2 linked regions of the Homo sapiens genome follow. The protein of the gene in region 2 interacts with the protein of the main gene of each other region in a pairwise test. Each region holds a gene or a part of one and is shown on either strand. Other genes may lie near its edges. The genes, in order: SMAD9 and SECISBP2.

Evidence for each region.
Region 1: the proteins of SECISBP2 (region 2) and SMAD9 interact in a two-hybrid assay, tested with the Homo sapiens proteins (one large-scale study listed by BioGRID and IntAct).

The regions. Positions count from the first base shown.
Region 1 is NC_000013.11:36,878,736-36,882,548, reverse strand, and holds part of SMAD9 (mothers against decapentaplegic homolog 9), read left to right. Parts: intron 1-1,771; exon of another isoform or gene 1,772-2,260; intron 2,261-2,673; 5' UTR 2,674-2,859; coding exon 2,860-3,271; intron 3,272-3,813. UniProt on the Homo sapiens protein: Transcriptional modulator activated by BMP (bone morphogenetic proteins) type 1 receptor kinase. SMAD9 is a receptor-regulated SMAD (R-SMAD).
Region 2 is NC_000009.12:89,356,279-89,360,255, forward strand, and holds the end of SECISBP2 (selenocysteine insertion sequence-binding protein 2), read left to right. Parts: intron 1-1,132; coding exon 1,133-1,287; intron 1,288-1,720; coding exon 1,721-1,913; intron 1,914-2,442; coding exon 2,443-2,546; 3' UTR 2,547-3,385; downstream 3,386-3,977. UniProt on the Homo sapiens protein: mRNA-binding protein that binds to the SECIS (selenocysteine insertion sequence) element present in the 3'-UTR of mRNAs encoding selenoproteins and facilitates the incorporation of the rare amino acid selenocysteine.

The sequences.
Region 1 (3,813 bases), on a different chromosome or scaffold from region 2:
TTTTGGAACTGTCGTGAGACCACTGTAATGATTTGAAATGTGTCAGTGAGATCGGTCTGCAGAGACCCGAGATGTTTCAGACCCTAGATTCATGACTAGTTGGGAATTCCCCAAGGGATGAGAAAGTGTGGTGGCCACTGAAGGTCACTCATCAAGGGAAACCTCAGACAGACAGTTTGAAGAAAAATGTATGGTTTAGGAGTAGTGCTTTTCAAACTTTTTTATTGTAACCCAACTTAACAAGTAAATTTTCCATTGTAACCCTGGACACATACACCGCACACACATACACACACACACACACACACACACACACACACAGCACATACCTGTGAATGAAAATTTTTCATGAAATGATTATTATTATACTTATTTTTCGTCAGCTGCTCTGCAATAAAGTCTGTTTTGTTTTGTTGTTTGTGCAAAAGCTGTTTTGTTCCAATTCATTGATTTCACATGCCATTGGTAAATAGAAACCCACAGTTTAAAAAAACGAACCAAACAAAACCTGGTTTAGGGAACTGTTGTTTCATGGAGCAAAAGTTTCTAAAAGGTGTATTTGGTTTAACTCGCTGAGTGTTTTTATAAAAAGCTTTTCTCTATGACTGACCTCAGCTTAAAGATCTATACCACAACTTACTAATAATGAGTTCCATGTAAAACTAAGCAGAATTCACAACTCTTTTGGGGTTCAGGTTATTCTATCATGAGACTTCTCCTTAAAGCTTCTAACCCTCTTCAGCCATTGCTTTAAGGCAGCCTGACTAGATTAAGTAAACAGAACTTGAACACAATGACTTAACTATACTTTATAAATTCATGATTGTTAAGCCACAAAATCAACCTTTCCAAATAAAACTGAGTGTAAGTCAAACTGCCAAGCGAAAAGAGCAGCTATGGAGCTCTCAACTCTCCCTTTTGTCATAGTTTATCTCTGTACAATGCCAGATAAAGCCCAGATGAGGAATAAAGTGATGTGACTATTGCTTTATACTTATTAAATCTCATCCGTTATTGTGGGACCATGCTGCCATCCTCCTCACCTGAGGTGCCCGATAATGATCACCCTAGCGGGGGGTTATAAGGCACCTTTGTTCGAAAGAAGTTTATAGAATTGGACTCAGAAAGGTACAGCTTGCCCTCCAGGGAAGCAAAGGAGAAAATTATATTTAATGCATATTAAACAAACAATTGTTGGAGATTATAAGCTACATCGATTCCAAGATCCCAAAATACTTGAGTCAGCTTACTCCAAAATGTTACCAGCCAGCCACTTTAAACATTAATGAGGTAGCTGGTTTCTAAAATCTGGAAGGAGGAGGAGGTTTTGTTTAAGCCAACTATTTCACAGAAGAGGAAATACAGTTCGACCTCAGGAAATTTAAATGAGACTGCTGAATAACTGGGAAAGAACATCTCCTGTGGATGACAGGGCAAAGAAGAATTAAGCTGATTTTAGGCCAAATAACAAATGTGACAGCTGTGCTTTTTTGTGTATGTATTGGTGTGTGATAGTGTATAATTTCTAGAAAAGCAGTTCTCATGCATTTGGGTCTTGAAAATTTCCACTTTTAAAAATTATTGAGAACTCCAAAGAACTCTTGCTTCTGTAGGCTGTATCTATCAATTTTTACCATTTTAAAAATTGAAACTAAGAAATTAAAAAAATATTGATTGAATCATTAAAAAAACTGTATTAACATAAAATATTTTTATTTAAAACATTGTTTTCAAAAAAGTTATTGAGAAGAGTATTATTGTTTTATATTACTGCAAATCTATTTAATACTTGGCTTAATAAATGGCACCTAGATTGTCATCTTTTCTCCATATACTCTATTGTGTTATGTTGTTTTGGTTGAAGTATGTGAAGCGAAGTTAGTTCACACAAATAAGTAATTGGAAAAGAGAGAACCTCATAGTCCCCTTAAAAGGATCTCAGGGGACTCCCAGGGATCCTTGGGGCACACTTTGAGAGCCACTGTCCTGAAAAGTAGTTTGGAAGACTATGTTAAGAATGGCTGTCCAGGAGTGGTGAGATTATTCACGATTCTTTTTTTCTTTTCTTTTCATTAGTATTTATTTTCTACAAGAAGATGGATTGCTTGTGCAAACTAAAAATGAGAAAGAAAGAACATACTCATGTTGAGGGCAGATTATGGAGGCCCTGGAAAAACCCAGGCAGAGGAGTTTACACTTGGGAGACCAAGGAGCCACTGTCATTTCTTAAATGGGAAAATGATAAGAGCTGTGTTTGGGAGTAAGTGAATTCGAATTGAAAGAGAGAAAGAGAGATGCTACTTCAGAGAAGTGGTGTGGTGAGTCAGACCTCAGGTGTTGGCAGAAATGGAGAGAAAGGACAAACTCCAAAGACTTTGAGGGCAGAATGACCTGAGACCTGGATATAGGAAATACAGGAGAGGGCAGAGTCAAAGACAACAGTTTTAAAATTAAAACATTTGAAGAATGTTTTTTCCCTTCTATCCAACTTTGGGGCCTGGTTCTGTTGCTCAGGCTGGAGTGCAGTGGCGCAGCCTTGACCTCCTGGGCTCGAGCCATTCACCCACTTGAGTAGCTGGGACTGTAGGTGTAGATTGCCTCTTTCTATCCAACTTCAACTTTTTCTGAATGTTACTCCGATTAAGCTAATTGAAGTCTTGTCGTGTTTTCCAGAGTTGGCCACCCTGTTCAAGGGCTTAGGAGAAAGTCAACACACTTCGCAACTTGAATTGGTCCCAGCTGCTCCCAGAAGAACGGGCGGGTTGGTCCCTATGCCACCCCTGGAGAGCTACTCGCCGCCCACTTTGCCGTGAAGGGCTGTGCGGTTCCCGTGCGCGCCGGAGCCTGCTGTGGCCTCTTATGCACTCCACCACCCCCATCAGCTCCCTCTTCTCCTTCACCAGCCCCGCAGTGAAGAGACTGCTAGGCTGGAAGCAAGGAGATGAAGAGGAAAAGTGGGCAGAGAAGGCAGTGGACTCTCTAGTGAAGAAGTTAAAGAAGAAGAAGGGAGCCATGGACGAGCTGGAGAGGGCTCTCAGCTGCCCGGGGCAGCCCAGCAAATGCGTCACGATTCCCCGCTCCCTGGACGGGCGGCTGCAGGTGTCCCACCGCAAGGGCCTGCCCCATGTGATTTACTGTCGCGTGTGGCGCTGGCCGGATCTGCAGTCCCACCACGAGCTGAAGCCGCTGGAGTGCTGTGAGTTCCCATTTGGCTCCAAGCAGAAAGAAGTGTGCATTAACCCTTACCACTACCGCCGGGTGGAGACTCCAGGTGGGTCGTCTTTACGACGTCAAGGTTTATTTTCAGAGTGAAGGTCGTGTGCCCCATTGATGGAGAATGATGGGGCACCAGCAGACAGGGACCTCTCCCAAAAGAGAGAGAGAGAAGAGAGGAGAGGGAGGTTCAGTTTTGAGGGACTCGTCCAAAATTTTGTTTCCCGGAATGAGGCAGCTGTCCAATCAAAGAAAGTTCCCATGAAAACGATATTCCTGCCTGGAATGCCACAGGAACACTCAATCCAAAGAGAATCGCAGTAAAACCCTGTTATAGCCAGTGTGAAGGAATGAAGATAAACTAGTCAGGAAAATCTAGAAAGAAGATATTTTCATTTGATTTCATTATGCTGGTAAGCTTTGTGTGATTTTGAAAATGAGGCAGATGGCTAATCGGAGAAAACTGCCATAAAAGTTTTATTTTGAGGTATCTGGGACAAGTCAACATAATCTTTTACCAGTTCTTGGGGTCCTGAAAGGTTTTAAAATGGCCTTGATAATGATGAGCTGTAAAAATTAAACATCCTCCTCCCCCCGCCC
Region 2 (3,977 bases):
CATCCCAAAACCATCTTCCCCTGTCCGTGGAAAAATTGTCTTCCACGAAACCAGTCCCTGGTGCCAAAAAGATTGGGGACCGCTGTTTTAAAGTGTTAGATTAATGTGGAGTTGACATTTCATCATTTTGGATCATTCTATGCAGGAGCATAGGTGCCTTTTCATTTGTTCAGATTTTCTGTTGCGGGGATGGTTTAAAAGACAGGGTCTCACTCTGTTGCCCAGGCTGGAGTGCAGTGGCATGATCATGGCTCATTGCAGCCTTGAACTCCTGGGCTCAAGTTACTGAGCTTGCCTCCGCTTCCTGAGTAGATTGACTACAGGCACATACCACCACACTGGGCAAATTTTTTTTCTTCTTTTTTTTTTTTGTAGAGACGGGATCTTACTATGTTGCGTAGGCTGGTATTGCGTTCTTTAACAGCATGCTGAAGTTGCCTGTAAATCTTTTCATGTTTCTTGAAAAATTCATTCCTACCAACTATAGTCTTGTGCTGCTGTTGTAAATGGAGTCATCTCTTTGATATATGCCAACTGGCTGCTGTGTGCTTGTGCCACACCCCCTCATGTATTTCTCATGCTGTTAGGAGTACTTCTCAGGTGCTGTTGGGTTTTCCAGGTGCATCACCTGCACATGGTACTCATTTCACCTCCATCCTCTCTCTGGTGCACCAGCCTTGGCTGGTCCCTGGCCCAGAAGCAGGGTCAGGGAGTAGAGGGTGGTGAGCCCTCGGGAGCCAGACCTGTGCCTCGACCAGGGGTACAATGTGGGATAAGAAACTTAACCTTTCTGTGCCTCTGGTTGTGCATCTGTCAGTGAGGACACAGCATCTGTCTGCCTTTTGGGATTTGGGGGAGGACACAGGAGCTAATAGGTGGTAAGTTTCAGTAATACTAATAGTTAACTTTTCCTGTTAAGACAATACCAGCTGTGTGTTTTCTTTCCATTTTTCCCCATATTTTTGGAGAGTTGATTCTGCAACTTGCTTTCTCCTTGTATTTTCAGGGGCGTCTGCCTTGGATATAAAATCATAGATGGGTGTGTTGCTAAGAAAAAGCTCTTTGCAACCAGTATTAACACCACACTCCATGTGACATGTCTTCCTGTCATTTTTCATTGTCCTTTGACCAGGTGGGCTGGATGACACTTTGCACACAATTATTGATTATGCCTGTGAGCAGAACATTCCCTTTGTGTTTGCTCTCAACCGCAAAGCTCTGGGGCGCAGTTTGAATAAGGCAGTTCCTGTCAGTGTGGTGGGGATCTTCAGCTATGATGGGGCCCAGGTGAGTGCACAGGGCACAGGCCTCTTCAGTCACTGCCCGTGGGAGGAAGTGGGGGCAGGTGGTCAGTGTGGGCTCACCCACAGAGCAGCCCCAGAACCTCCAGTAGGCTGTCATTGAGGAGGAGCCACCACTTAGGCAGAACCTTCTTATAAAAAAGTAGCCTTTGTCTCCTTGACATCATGGGTTGTCTGGTTCTGAACTGAGCTCTGTTCTGGGCTTGCTGCTGACATAGTGGCACCTCAGGCAGGCCCAAGAAGTCGGCCTAGCCCACTCTTTCCTCTGGGGCAGCATCCCTGGTACCCACCCATAAGCATGAGGTCCACATTACCCCATGTCACCCCTGCTTCTCTGTGGAGGTGGCCATTGCTGAGTTTGAGGGACCCGTGTCCTCTGTAGCTGGGATGTTACCTGTGTGCTCTCACTTGTGCCCAAGGATCAGTTCCACAAGATGGTTGAGCTGACAGTGGCGGCCCGACAGGCGTACAAGACCATGCTGGAGAATGTGCAGCAGGAGCTGGTGGGAGAGCCCAGGCCTCAGGCACCTCCCAGCCTACCCACACAGGGCCCCAGCTGCCCTGCAGAAGATGGCCCCCCAGCCCTGAAAGAAAAAGAAGAGCCACACTACAGTGAGTGCTTAAGGGAGAGTTGTGTCAGGTCGAGTGTCCTCTTATTTACTGACTTTAATTAGGAGTCCCTAGGTGAGCAGCTTGACAATGCTGCAAGACCAGCTGAGTAGCAGGGCCTGGTAAGTCCAGCCCATTGCCTAAGAGGTATTATCAGACTTTTGAAGTGGGAAGGGCTTGTCAGTGACTGTCTCAGACTTCAAGTCAGATGTCTTTTGACAATGGGTGGCCTTAAGGATAGCTGTACCCAAGACAGGCTTGGAAGGCCAAGTAAAGGTTCAGTCCTCTCCTAGCCTACCTACACAAGGCCCCAGCTGCCCTATAGAAGATGGCCCCCCAGCTTCTCCTCAATAAGGGGCAGCCCGGCCCAGCAGGCTGAGAACAGTGAGTGAATGTCTGCCAGGGCACCTCTGAGCACCGTGAGCTGCTGGGCAGTGGCCACAGGCTCCCTCTCTCATGCTGCTGGTTTTCTTACAGGAGTTTTCCTACTTGTTGATGCCTATTCCTCACTCGTGCTGTTTTCTCATTTTAGTTGAAATCTGGAAAAAACATCTGGAAGCATACAGTGGATGTACCCTGGAGCTAGAAGAATCCTTGGAGGCTTCAACCTCTCAAATGATGAATTTGAATTTATGAGAGTTCTTGCCTGTGTGTCTGTATTTTGGGTAAGGAGGGGAGGTCTGAAAAAGACTTTGGGGCTTTTTCTTCTGTTTTTCATGACAATGTAATTTGTGTAACTGTTGAATCTGGAAATTGATCAGCATTAAAGGGCACATGAAGCAGTGTCTGCAGGCGTTCAGTGCTGCGGAGCCTGTTAAAGGTCACTCAGATGTGCAGGTGTTAATCTTCTCTAAAAGCCTGGTGATACAGCTCTGGCTTTCTGAGCACACTACGGATCTGGAAAATACTGGAAAATGTGATACTTAGAATACTTTGGCTGCTAAGGAAACTTCCTCTCCATTGCAGAATAGCTGAGCCAAGTGAGTGAGTTTGCAGAAAGCAGGTGGTGAGCTCCTGCCTGCTGGAGGTTGCCATGGAGGGCCATTCCTGCCCGGCAACAGCACCGTCCTGCAGGGAGCCACTTGGCAGAAGGGTGCAGGGCTGCTGGTGTCAGAGCAAGAGGGCTACAGGGAAAGGGCCCTTTCTCAGGGGATGTAGCTTTTTTAAAAGATTTGGGAACACTTGGAGGATTTGCTAAAATGAGCCTCAGAAGGAAAATTGGTTTTCTAACCTGTGACTTTTTGAAATGAATTATTCCTTTCAGTCTTTATTTTTCAAAGAAACAATGTGTATTGAAGTACCTAGATTTGTTTGATAATCAACAAATCTTTCCTTTTTCAATGAACATATTCTGAATGTGGTTTCTGTCTTAGACCAGGAGGACAGAGTTTGCTTTCATATTTTCCCTGTAAGTAAGAGGGCTTATTTATTTTAAATAAAGAGTAATTATTAAATTTTGTTTCAGACTCTGGTGATTTTAGGCTTCTCAGTGGTCTCTGTCTTACTTGATGATTCCTATGTCTTAATTTACCTCCTTTGGACAGTCTGGGCCCTGAAATAAAAGGGGGCCGCGTAGTGGGGGTTCTGCTATCCCCAGCACTCCTAGGTCTGGAAGTAGTGATTGTCAAAGCCTCCAGCACTGCACAGACCTGCCGGAGCCAGATCCTGGCTCAATCCCAACCTGCACTTGCGTTTTCACCACAGCCAATGGCAGGAAAGAATTTTCACTGCTTTTTGTATTGTTTTGGCTTTGAAAGTGCTCTTAATTGAATTCAGTCTTGGCAATATTGTACCTCTTGAGAAGCGGCCTGTGATGAGCACATAAAATTGGAATAGTGAGTCAGAAATGACATGCTATGAGCAGGGCTGGAAATGTGACCAGAGGTTGGTGTATGAAGGCACCGTCTGCCCTGTCATCTGTGGAGCTCACAGTGACCAGTGTGAGCCTTGCTGTTCTTTACACGTTCTGAGCTGTTTAGACATGGGAAGTAGATGTGGTCAGCCAGGCCATCAGTAGTCCCAAGCAGCAAGTCATCTCCACCCATTTATCTTTCAGGGCAGTCAGCG